3 linked regions of the Homo sapiens genome follow. The protein of the gene in region 2 purifies or fractionates together with the protein of the main gene of each other region. This does not show direct contact. Each region holds a gene or a part of one and is shown on either strand. Other genes may lie near its edges.

Evidence for each region.
Region 1: the proteins of GALNT6 (region 2) and FAM20B purify together in Homo sapiens (affinity purification with mass spectrometry; 2 studies listed by BioGRID and IntAct, with this or other methods). This does not show direct contact.
Region 3: the proteins of GALNT6 (region 2) and GDPD5 purify together in Homo sapiens (co-immunoprecipitation; one large-scale study listed by IntAct). This does not show direct contact.

The regions. Positions count from the first base shown.
Region 1 is NC_000001.11:179,073,891-179,077,129, forward strand, and holds the end of FAM20B (glycosaminoglycan xylosylkinase), read left to right. Parts: 3' UTR 1-2,677; downstream 2,678-3,239. UniProt on the Homo sapiens protein: Responsible for the 2-O-phosphorylation of xylose in the glycosaminoglycan-protein linkage region of proteoglycans thereby regulating the amount of mature GAG chains.
Region 2 is NC_000012.12:51,381,336-51,384,987, reverse strand, and holds part of GALNT6 (polypeptide N-acetylgalactosaminyltransferase 6), read left to right. Parts: intron 1-1,405; exon of another isoform or gene 1,406-1,527; intron 1,528-2,478; exon of another isoform or gene 2,479-2,675; intron 2,676-3,652. UniProt on the Homo sapiens protein: Catalyzes the initial reaction in O-linked oligosaccharide biosynthesis, the transfer of an N-acetyl-D-galactosamine residue to a serine or threonine residue on the protein receptor. May participate in synthesis of oncofetal fibronectin.
Region 3 is NC_000011.10:75,515,835-75,519,486, forward strand, and holds part of GDPD5 (glycerophosphodiester phosphodiesterase domain-containing protein 5), read right to left. Parts: exon of another isoform or gene 3,181-3,652; intron 2,440-3,180; exon of another isoform or gene 2,382-2,439; intron 1,593-2,381; exon of another isoform or gene 1-1,592. UniProt on the Homo sapiens protein: Glycerophosphodiester phosphodiesterase that promotes neurite formation and drives spinal motor neuron differentiation.

The sequences.
Region 1 (3,239 bases), on a different chromosome or scaffold from region 2:
CACTCATCTATGGACTCAGAGCTGTGTGCTTTGCTCCTGCATCTTGTTGAGGTGCTGTTCCAGCTTTGCATTTCTGTCAAGTAGAGGCGAATATATAAACAGTGTGGTTGAATACATTTAATGCCAGCCATTGGAAACTAGTTTTAGGCAACCACTCTCAAAAACAGCTTTAGAATTTATGCCCAGTTTTCTTGCATTGAAAGATAACTGAGTAATAACCTGTAACTATTTTTAAATGGCATGAAATTAGGAAACTTTTGTACATTTTATATACATTTTGAGATGAACAGAACAATGGGCTGAGTTATAAAAAGCGTGTATTGAATTTAAGAAGACAGACTAGCACAAAACACAGAATTCGTGTTAACCAAAGGAGGCATTGATTTCAGTTTTAAGGCTACTCAGTGTTGTGTGTCCAGGGAAATTCACAGCTCAGTATGAGAATACCTTGGTTAGTGCTCACCCACAAGCTTCCAGGAGCCAGCTGGGAGGAGACAATAGGAAGAGATGTCATCTCTGCTCTCCCTGTAAATGTTAGTTGAACTAAGTTATGGATTTGTGGTCTTTCAAATACATGACGCCTTTAGTATGCCACACTGAAATGAATAAGAAGTCTTCTGAAACTGGGAACTTCATAACATTGAAGGCAGAAGATTCTGCTAAGGAAAAAAGCAGGCAGGAAAGAAAATGTCTCATCCTTTCTTGAAAGCATTTGCAGAAAATATATCATTTCATTTTATTCCCATCTGTTTTCAAACTCGTGATCTTAAAAGGCATTCTGATGATAAATTTAGAATTTTCATCTATAAAATTTAGAACTCTAATCCATAAAGTTAGAATTGAGCTAATAGAGTGGTATGACATGGCACTAAAAATATAAATTTTTGTTGTAAGTCAGGATTGGAGTAAGCTGGAAAAGTATGTTTAGGCAAATCTTGGAGAAAACCAACCATAAACTTACAGCTCTAAAATTCAGAAAGCCCTAAAATTTCAAACACTGTTTGAAAGAAGAGGTGGGGGCCGGGTGCCGTGGCTCATGCCTGTCATCCCAGCATTTGGGAGGCTGAGGCAGGCAGATCACCTGAGGCCAGGAGTTCGAGACCAGCCTGGCTGGCTAGCATGGTGAGACCGTCTCTACTAAAAATGCAAAAATTAACAGGGCACGGTGGCATGCGCCTGTAGTCCCAGCTACTCGGGAGGCTGAGGCAGGAGAATCACTTGAATCCAGGAGGCGAAGGTTGCAGTGAGCTGAGATTGTGCTGCTGCACTCCAGCCTGGGAGACAGAGCGAGACTCTGTCTTAAAAAAAAAAAAAGGAGGTGAATTTTTTTTTAAGTTTTGTAACACTGTCCTACTTTATTTATTAGAATCTAAGGCTGTTACAATCAAGTCGTTGCAGGGTTTGGATCAGCTGTAAGTTAGGTATGCCTACCAAACATCCAAAGGTAGACGTGGAGACATTTTAATACTACAAAACTAGGAAAATCAGAACTCATGGCCATTTCCTGCCCTCCTCCAACTTGTTAAAACATGTTTATTCTAAAGTTCGAATGGATAAATTTGAGTATAAAGGTTTTGTTATAAAACTGTTCTTTAGTGTAAGGCTGCATTGTGGGTTTGGGGGAAATGTAAATAATTTTCTGTGTAAAACAAATTCATAGGATCTGATTTGCTCAGAGTATTATTCAAGAATGTATTAATAAGGCATTGCCCCCTGTTTGCACTCAGGGTTAATATGTCAAATGAAATTTAAGAAGGAAATGGAAGAATTCAGGTACATTAATTGCATATTATTTTGGGAAAGATGAGTCCTATACGTGGCAATTTTTCAATGTCATCTGAAGCCAGCATTATCTTCCAAAGAAATCGATCTTTTTTTTCTAAAAAAAAAAAATGCTTTTGCCTTCCCTTCCCTTCCCATCCGCCATATTTCTTCAGCCTTTCTTCTCGATCACCCGTGTATTCTTTGACCAGTAAATGACCACACCTCAATGATGGTAAAACAGCATCATCAGTAAGCTATCTTATATGCCTCATCCTGTGAGTTTGAGCTTCAGGAAACATGAGTAAAAGTATATGTAATGTATATAGTCGTATATGTATTCTAGCAAGAAAAACATATTTATTTTGACAAAGGGGAACACTGACTTTCTGAAGGATTCAGAAAGAACCTTAGTGAAAGGTTCTCAGTCTCTGAGAGTGGACCCTAATTAACATAAAGACCATTCATCAGCGAATAACTACTGAGCAACTCTAGTGTGCCAGCACAGGCCAGACATACTAGTGAGCCAGGCACATCTGGCCTTGGGAAACTCATCCTACAGGGGAAGGCCAGTTTTTTTCCCTTCAATTCCTCAAGTCTGGGTGGTGACAAGGTAGGGGCTAGGTACTGGACTACCACAGGTTTTTAGGAACTAAGGTGTTTCTCATAAACACAAAATGTTGGGTGAAACTGGGAACAACTACTCAGAAGCTCATTTATTTGCTTAAATGGAAAGTGTGGGAGCCACTACCCTCTCTTTTGATCTGCCAAGGATTTCCTCTCAGAGCTGTTGCACAGACAGAGATTGTACTTGGTAAGATACCAAACAAGACAGATATGGATCTAAATTTCTAATGTGTTCTATGGGTTTCAATTCTGAAAAAAGAAAATGAATAAAGATTTTAATAAATATTGATATCTGATCTTTTCCTCTTCTTTCCCCCTTCAGGATATTTCCAGTGGTTCCTATTTCAGTTCCCTTCCTGTTAGGGGACAGAAGAAGATTACATCTTTTGTGACCACTTAAACTTCCACAGGGATAGTTTCACAGTACCTGGTGGATTAGACCTTTAAATTTCCTCACCAGTCTTCAAACGGTTCATACTAGATTGTAACTATACCAAAATTTTCTATGGGATCATTGTTAGGTGCTTTTTGTATATTTAATAGTTAACTCCATTTTTGCAGCTTCCTTAGAGGTAAAGAATTATGAATCCTGAAGAACTTGTCAGCACACTACAAAAAAGGCAGGAAGAGAAGGCCAGTTGCCCTAGTAGTACTTCTTAGGACACCTAGATTTTTAACTTTTGAAATAGAATCCAGCATCATAAACCTCAACCAGGTAACTGAGCAAAGCTCTTAAGATTTTTATTGGGCCAGGCACCATGGCTCATGTCTGTAATCCCGGCACTTTGGGAGGCCAAGGCCCGTGGGTCACCTGAGGTCGGGAGTTTGAGACCAGCCTGGCCAACATGGTG
Region 2 (3,652 bases):
AAAAAACGAATACTTGCCTGTGTTACATGTGATACATGATGCACTTTGATATTTTCTTTTCATTCTATTCTGGGTTTTTAAAATTTATTTATTTTTATTTTTTGAGACAGGGTCTCGCTCTATTGCCTAGGTTGTAGTGCAGTGGCATGATCATAACTAACTACAGCCTCAACCTCCTGGGCTCAAGCAATCCTCCAGCATCAGCCTCTCAAGTAGCTGAGATTACAGGCCTATGCCACCACACCCAGCTAACTGGTCTCTTTTTGCTAATTGGTCTTTTTTTTTTTTTTTTTTTTGAGACAGAGTCTTGCTCTGTCACCCAGGCTGGAGTACGGTGGTGCTATTTCTGCTTACTGCAACCTCCAGCTCCTAGGTTCAATCAACTCTCCTGCCTCTGTCTCCTGAGTAGTTGGGATTACAGGCACATGCCACCATGCCTGGCTAATTTTTGTATTTTTAGTAGAGAAGGGGTTTCACCATGTTGGCCAGGTTGGTCTTGAACTCCTGGCCTAAAGTGATCTGCCCACCATGGCCTCCCAAAGTGCTGGGATTTCAGGTGTGAGCCACTGTGCCTGGTCCTAACTGGTCTTTTAAAGAAATTTTTGAATGCTAATTTGCAACACTCTGAATTTATTTTATAATATCACAGTGGATTGTAATCAGCAGTTTGATACAAGCTGGGCTGGGTAAAGCCTCAGTTCCTTACACCAGTGAGAGAAGGTAAGTTTGTGTTCTGGCCGGTGGGGCCAGGGAAGCAAATCCCATTTGTTCAATCTAGGCAGGCTTTTCAGAGAGGATTTCTGGCATCATCTCGGGATCAAAGCCAAGGATGGTCCAAAGAGTTGCAGGCCCAAGGGTAGCTGGAGGAAAAAGACTTGGGAAGAAGTGCTGAGCCACAGCGAGAGGGAAATGAGTGGATGGGGGCTGCGGGCACACTTGCCAGGAAAGCAGGAGGCCAGGTGTGGGAGCCCAAAGGTGAGGGAGATATACAAGACACCAGGGGCGGATCTCGTGAAGCTTTGTACTTGAAACAATAGCAAAGAATAGCAGCTATTCTTTCTCCAAGGCTGGTGGAGGGGCGACCTCCACGACCTTGCTAACCATACTTCTGGGAATCATCTCCTACACAGGGAGCAGAAATCCTTAACCCCAAAGTCCTGTGGCTTGCACTAGATTCTGTGTCTCTTCTAAGGGACTCTTCCTGTTGCCCTCATGCTAAGCAAACAAACTAGAGAATGAGTGCCTCACCACCAAGGCTAATCCCAGGTGTCTCATTTCGGTTCAGGATGTGGTTAGTACCTTGAGGAACTGTAGGTTTGAGAGAGAAAGCTTCAGGCAGCCAGATGGGATTGAGAGATTAGATGCCTAGGAAGAGCTCAATTTAACCCTATATTTCTTTCTCCAGGGAAAATAAAAGAAGCAAAAACAGGCCCTGCTGTGAGGGACCACGAGGCAGTGCCAGGATGAAAGAGTTGGAGTAACCTAGGTGATTCTGAGTGAATCAGTCAGGAGGCCTTCCTGGAGGGGGTGAGTCTTGAGCACTGGCAACAGTTAGTAACTACAATCTTACCATGCCTTTGTTTCTAACTGTGCTCCCTCTTTCTTGCTGGAGTGGGAAGGTAGATGGAAAGTAGCAGGGAAGACGAAGCCTGCAGGACGGTTCAAAGCTGTCATGGCAAACACTCCCCCATTCTGCAGGCCTCTGTGTGGGCTTAGCCGGGACAGTTCCAGAACTGATGAGGTGTCTAGCTCAAGCAAATCCCCCTGTGCTAGCCCCAGCATAGCTCAACCTCTGTGACAAGAAACTCCTGCTACACTGAATCCCCATTTCCTCCCCGAAGCCTTCCTCAAACCCACAGGGAACTCTACCTCTCTCAGCTTAGCTCTTACTGTCTGTGCTATTCTGCTTTAATTTTATTCATTTTTGAATAAGTAATATAGTCAGGGTTCAAAGTACAAAAGAGTATTCAGTGAAAGGTCCTTTTCCTGCTCCTGAATCTCCCCTGGTCAGGTGCTTCCTTCACCTGGTCAGTGCTATCAGTTCTCGTTCTCCAATAAGATTTTCAAATCCCTTGGGGAAAGGAATTGAGCCTTTGTGTCCCTCTGTGTACCAGACGGGGTAAACTGTCCCACCCCATCACCCAAGGGGGTCTTCCTAGGCACCATACCCTCCCTCTTCCATCCACACTGCTACTAACTCTCCTGGGTCAGACTCCGAATGGGTCATCCAGCTGCCAAGCAGGTCCCTTTCCAAGATACCCTCCACCGCTGTCATATTGCTCTTCCTGTAATGCTGGGCTCCCAGCTTAACGCTTTATTACTCCCCATGCCTTGGGTCAAGGGCAAATGCTCCTCAGCATGATGAACAAGGCCCTTAGGACTTGGTTTCAGCCACCTCTGTAGGCCCAATTTCTGCTACTCCTGCCATACCAGACTGCTTACAGTTCTGTGACTGGCTCTTCTGTCTCCCACCTCTAGACCATTGCAGGTACTGTGCCTTCTGCCTGAAATGTGCTCACCTCGCCTCGCTGACTCCTACTCGCCAGTTAGTGTTCGGCCCATTTCTGCCCCCGTGAGATTTCTTCACAGATGTTGCCCTCCCCCATTTGCTGAGTTTCCTGCATGCCGGCTCCTTCAGCACTCAAGGGTACCTCTTTGATTCTGCTTCTCACAGGGTAATCTCTGTTTAAAATCTGATGCCCCCAATTGACTGTAGGATCCTTGAGGGCTGGCCTTGCACTTCTCTGTGTCCCCCGCCTCTTGCAGAGTACCTGGTAGAGGCAGTTATTCAGTAAATACTGGTGGAATAAACAAATCTCTCCTATCTCCTAGACAATAGTTAATACAAAATAGATGCTCAAAGAGATTTCTTTTGTTTGATTTTTGACGGTGCTGCTGAATCTGATGTTATAAAAGAAGCCACATTTGTACCCCAGTCCAGAATGAATCCACCTCCCCACTTGAGATCACGATGGCCACATACTCCCAAGGTCTCAGACACCAGGCCTCTCCACAGGCAGGAGCTTGTGCGTTTAAACAATAGCATTAAATAGTACAACCAGAGTTATTTTTAAGCAAAACATGCAGGGAGTAATGAACGTGGCTTTGGCCAAGGGCCAGGTGCTTGAGGATAACTGCTGGGAAGTGAAGCAGGGATTTATCATAATAATAGAAATAGTTGATACCATTTATTGAGGGCTTAGTGTGACAGGTGCTCTGCCAAACATTTTACCTACATTATCTGATTTAATCCTCCCCACAACCCTGTGAGTTAGGTATTAGTTGCCCCCACTTTATAGATGAGGAAATTGAGGCTTAGAGGGATTAAGTAAATTACCCAAGGGTCACACAGCTGCTAATGATCAAAACTAACACTTTGTGGGAACTTACCATGTGCAGAGACTGCTAAGCTTTGTCCATGAATTTTGTGGGGAAGGAGCATAATCCTTGTAACAACCCTAGGAGGTAGGTGCTACTACTAGAAGAGGAAGAACTGGAATTTGTGCCCAGGTCCCTTGCCATTGATGTCTAGTGCTTAACCAGTGAGCTTATGTGTCCAGAACTCTGCACAGAAAGTTCTGCAAGCATTCATCCTCTAGGGCATGGATCCACATGCCTGGGGGTGGAGCCTGGTGAACGCCCATGCCCAGCC
Region 3 (3,652 bases), on a different chromosome or scaffold from region 2:
CAGAGAGGGAGAGATGGGTACCTCCAAAACTCCTCTCGCCGAGGTGTCTGTGGCAGCTCGGCTGCTGATTCATCTTTGGGGTAAGGGCTGAGAGCCCCTTCATTAAGGGGTATGGTAAAAACAGATGATCTTTAAACTGTGTCCTAAGGACAGTGTATTCAGTGGACTCCCGGGCTTTTGATGGACAGAGTGAGGAAGTGTCTTTGGTTTGCTTCTCCAGAGCCACTCTCTACCTTGTTTGGGGCCCTGGGAACTGACCTCTGTGGAATGTAATGGGCTCCATGCTGCTGGCTTTCAGAGAGGTACACCCAACAGGAAGCATAAATGGGGGACTGAAGGAAAGAGGAAAGATAGTTGAAGTTTATCCCCTGTGAGGTCTCCTGGGTTGACTGGGTCCCTGTACTGATGGCCCACAGCCCCTATCCCTATAGCTGCCCACTTCCCTTGCTCCTTCAGCCCTGAGTGGTAACTGCTCCCAGCCACTGCTAGTCCCTCGGTGCTGCACTATCCCGTGTTGATTTGTCACACGCCTAATGCCTGAGCCAGTCACTCTGGGTTGATGTACCCTCTCTGGCTGTGCCCAGGCAAGGAGACCAAGCACTGCCACTGATGGCCCCTTTTGTAGTCTTCCTCTGTCCAGTCCTCAGAGCCTCCTCTGGTCTTAAAGAAGAGCAGTTTGAAGGGATGCCCATGATTACATGTGCAGGCCTCCTCTGTCCTCTGTCTCAGCCTGGGCCTGGTGGGGCAAGGGGAGCAGACTGGGAGACAGGGAGCGTGGACCAGCCAGTGAAGGAAGGGGCAGGAGGCAGGGGTCAGCTCCCCAGCAAGTGCATGCACCAACAGCTCTTGAGTGCTTAGTTTACGGTAGGCACTGTGCTCCACATACCAGTAATTTTATTTGCTTCTCAGGTAATCCCAGGAAGTCCTTCCTACAAATGCATTTTATAGGAGAAACAACTCGTGCTCAAAGAGATAAAATGATTCTTCCAGGGTCATCCTGCCAGTAAGTGACAAAGCCAGGATCAACATAAGTTTTCTGTCTTCTGTATGGTAGACACGTTGGACAGTGATACCTGGACTTGAGCAAGCCCTGAGAATGACCTTGTATGGCAGGCGCACCTCAATGCAGTTTGGTTCTAAGCTAAGGAATCTGGGAGTAGCCAACCCGGAGATCCACTCCTTATCTATGAGGAACATCTGAGCTCTTGGCCCATCCTATGGAACTTGCGGGCCAAACAGAGGATTGAGGTCTGTGGTTTGGGGTAAATGGAGGTTGCTAGGTGGAAGTTGTTGGGGGAGGTGCTAAGTGAAAATGCTATAGAAATTGCAAGCTTTTAGGCTGGGGGGCGGTAGCTCACAGCTATAATCCCAGCACTTTGGGAGGCTGAGGCAGGCGGATCACCTGAAGTCAGGAGTTTGAGACCAGCCTAACCAACATAGCGAAACTCCATCTCTACTAAAAATACAAAATTAGCTGCGTGTGGTGGCACTTGCCTGTAATCCCAGCTACTTGGGAGGCTGAGGCAGGAGAATCGCTTGAACCTGGGAGGCGGAGGCTGCAGTGAGTGAAGATCGCGCCATTGCACTCCAGCCTGGGCAATAAGAACGAAACTCTGTCTCAAAAAAAAAAACCAAAACCAAAACCAAAAACAAAAAAACTGCACACTTCCTGCGAGTGGTTGTGGTTCTTCGGTCCAGCCAGCAGCCACTGGACTCTCTCCCCTGTGTGTGAGCCCGTAGTAAAACCCCATGGCTCATTCGCTGGCTCTGGGTCTCCTCTTTGGCCTCTTGAGCCTGGTGCCATCCTCACTGGCACTGATAGGGGTTTAGCTCAACACCTAGTAACTACCTTGAAATAATTTTAGTGAACTGGCTCACAATCACAGCAGAGTTGGATGACTTAAGTGGGGTCAATTATCGGTGAGGATTTGCACAGAGGCCTCCAATGTTCCCTGGACACCCTCCCCTAGATTAAAAAAAAAAATCCTCTGACATTCTTCAGTTCTCCCAGGTGGGACAGGGGCCCCAAGCAGGTGGTGCAGTTGGGTGTCCGGGTTGGAAAAACAAGCAGATTCAGACAAGGCTTCATTGTTAAGGAGAGTCTGACACTTTGACCATTAAAGCAAAACTGAGCAAAACAAAATGCTTACTGCCTTGTCTTATCTCTTAGAGAGAAAGGGGACAGTGGGAAGGGCCCCCGGGCTGGGTGTTGATCCCACCCTAACCAGCGCCAGTCTCAGAGACCTGGCCTCAGGTGGCTGGGGCAGGGAGTTCAGGGTCTCAGTCCAGCCCGGCGTCAGGTATGGGGTGGGTGCTTGCCATGTGTGGCCTCGTCTGGCCTCTGTGGCCCTTTCAGAGAGATCGTTATTGTCATTTTTCAGATGAGGAAACTGAGGCTCCGAGAAGACACGCAGGGAGCAGCTGCATGCTGGAACCCAGGTTAACTGGATTACCAAGTCTTCCCACTCCCCTCATCTCTCCAGGCAGGAAGGTCCTGGGGGGAGGAAGCAGCCTCGGAAGGAATGAGCTCCTTGTCCTGGGGATGTGCAAGTATTGTCTTGGGACACTGTGGGAGGTAGGCTGCAGAGGGCAGCCAGGTGGCTCTCAAACTGAAATCACCAGGGGAGCTTCATCAACTACTGATGCCTGGGTCATGCCCCAGAGATTGTGGGGCCTGCAGGACTTTTAAAAGTTTCCCAGATGATTCTAATGTGAAACAAAGTTTGAAAGCCATGGGCTTGGATGCCCACTGCTGCCCTTCCCACCTCTGAAACTCTCCTGCCACACGCCTTTCTAAGGAAAGAAGGGATTTATTACCCTGACCCCATTTTACAAAATGGGCAGAAGCCAAGCAAAATATAAGGGTGTCCTCAAGGCCCCACAGCCAGCAACAAATCGAGGCAGCATGAGGGGTCCCCTGATTTCAGACTGCCCCTGGGGTGAGCTTCTTTAAGACACTTGGGGGTTCCAGCTCCCTTGTCAGTGGGAGAGAAGTTTCTCTTTGAGCCTCCTGGGTGAGAGAGTGAGACATTCTTCGTGGCATTTTTTTTAAAGAGTCCACTCGTTCAAAAGCTAAACAGCTGCAGGATTAACGCTGGAAGACCCCCTCTGCTTGCTGGTGTGCCTTGGGAGCAAGAAGATAAAAGAACTCAAAGCAGGCCTGTTTATCCTTTTCTGCAGGAGATTTGGTCACAAGCCTGGGAAGAGCTGAGCCTGTCAGACCAGCAGCCCACACTTCCTCCCCACCTGCCTTTCCGCCTTCCTCATGCCCTGAAAGCAGAATGTCACAGATGGAGAGATGGTGTGGGTTGGTGGGAAGTGAGAGGCCTGTGGAGTCCACTGGTCCTGGGGTCTGCCCAAGCTCTCCTCCTTGCCAGCTACCTTTGGAGAGGAGCTACTCCTCTCTCAGCTCATTCAGTGCTGATCTCACAGAGGTCCAAAGTCAGCAACATGGGCACCACCTCCAGGAAGGCTTCCCTGACTCCCCTCCCCACCCAGCGCCGGGCAACCCCAGGCCCCTGGCCTTCCCTGTCACATTCTGTGTTGTCACTGCTTCTGTGTCCTCCCAACCCTACCAGGCTGTTCATTCATTCATTCCACGGAGCAGCTGCCCTTTGCCTGGGATTCATTCCAAACGCCTTTCCTGAGCACC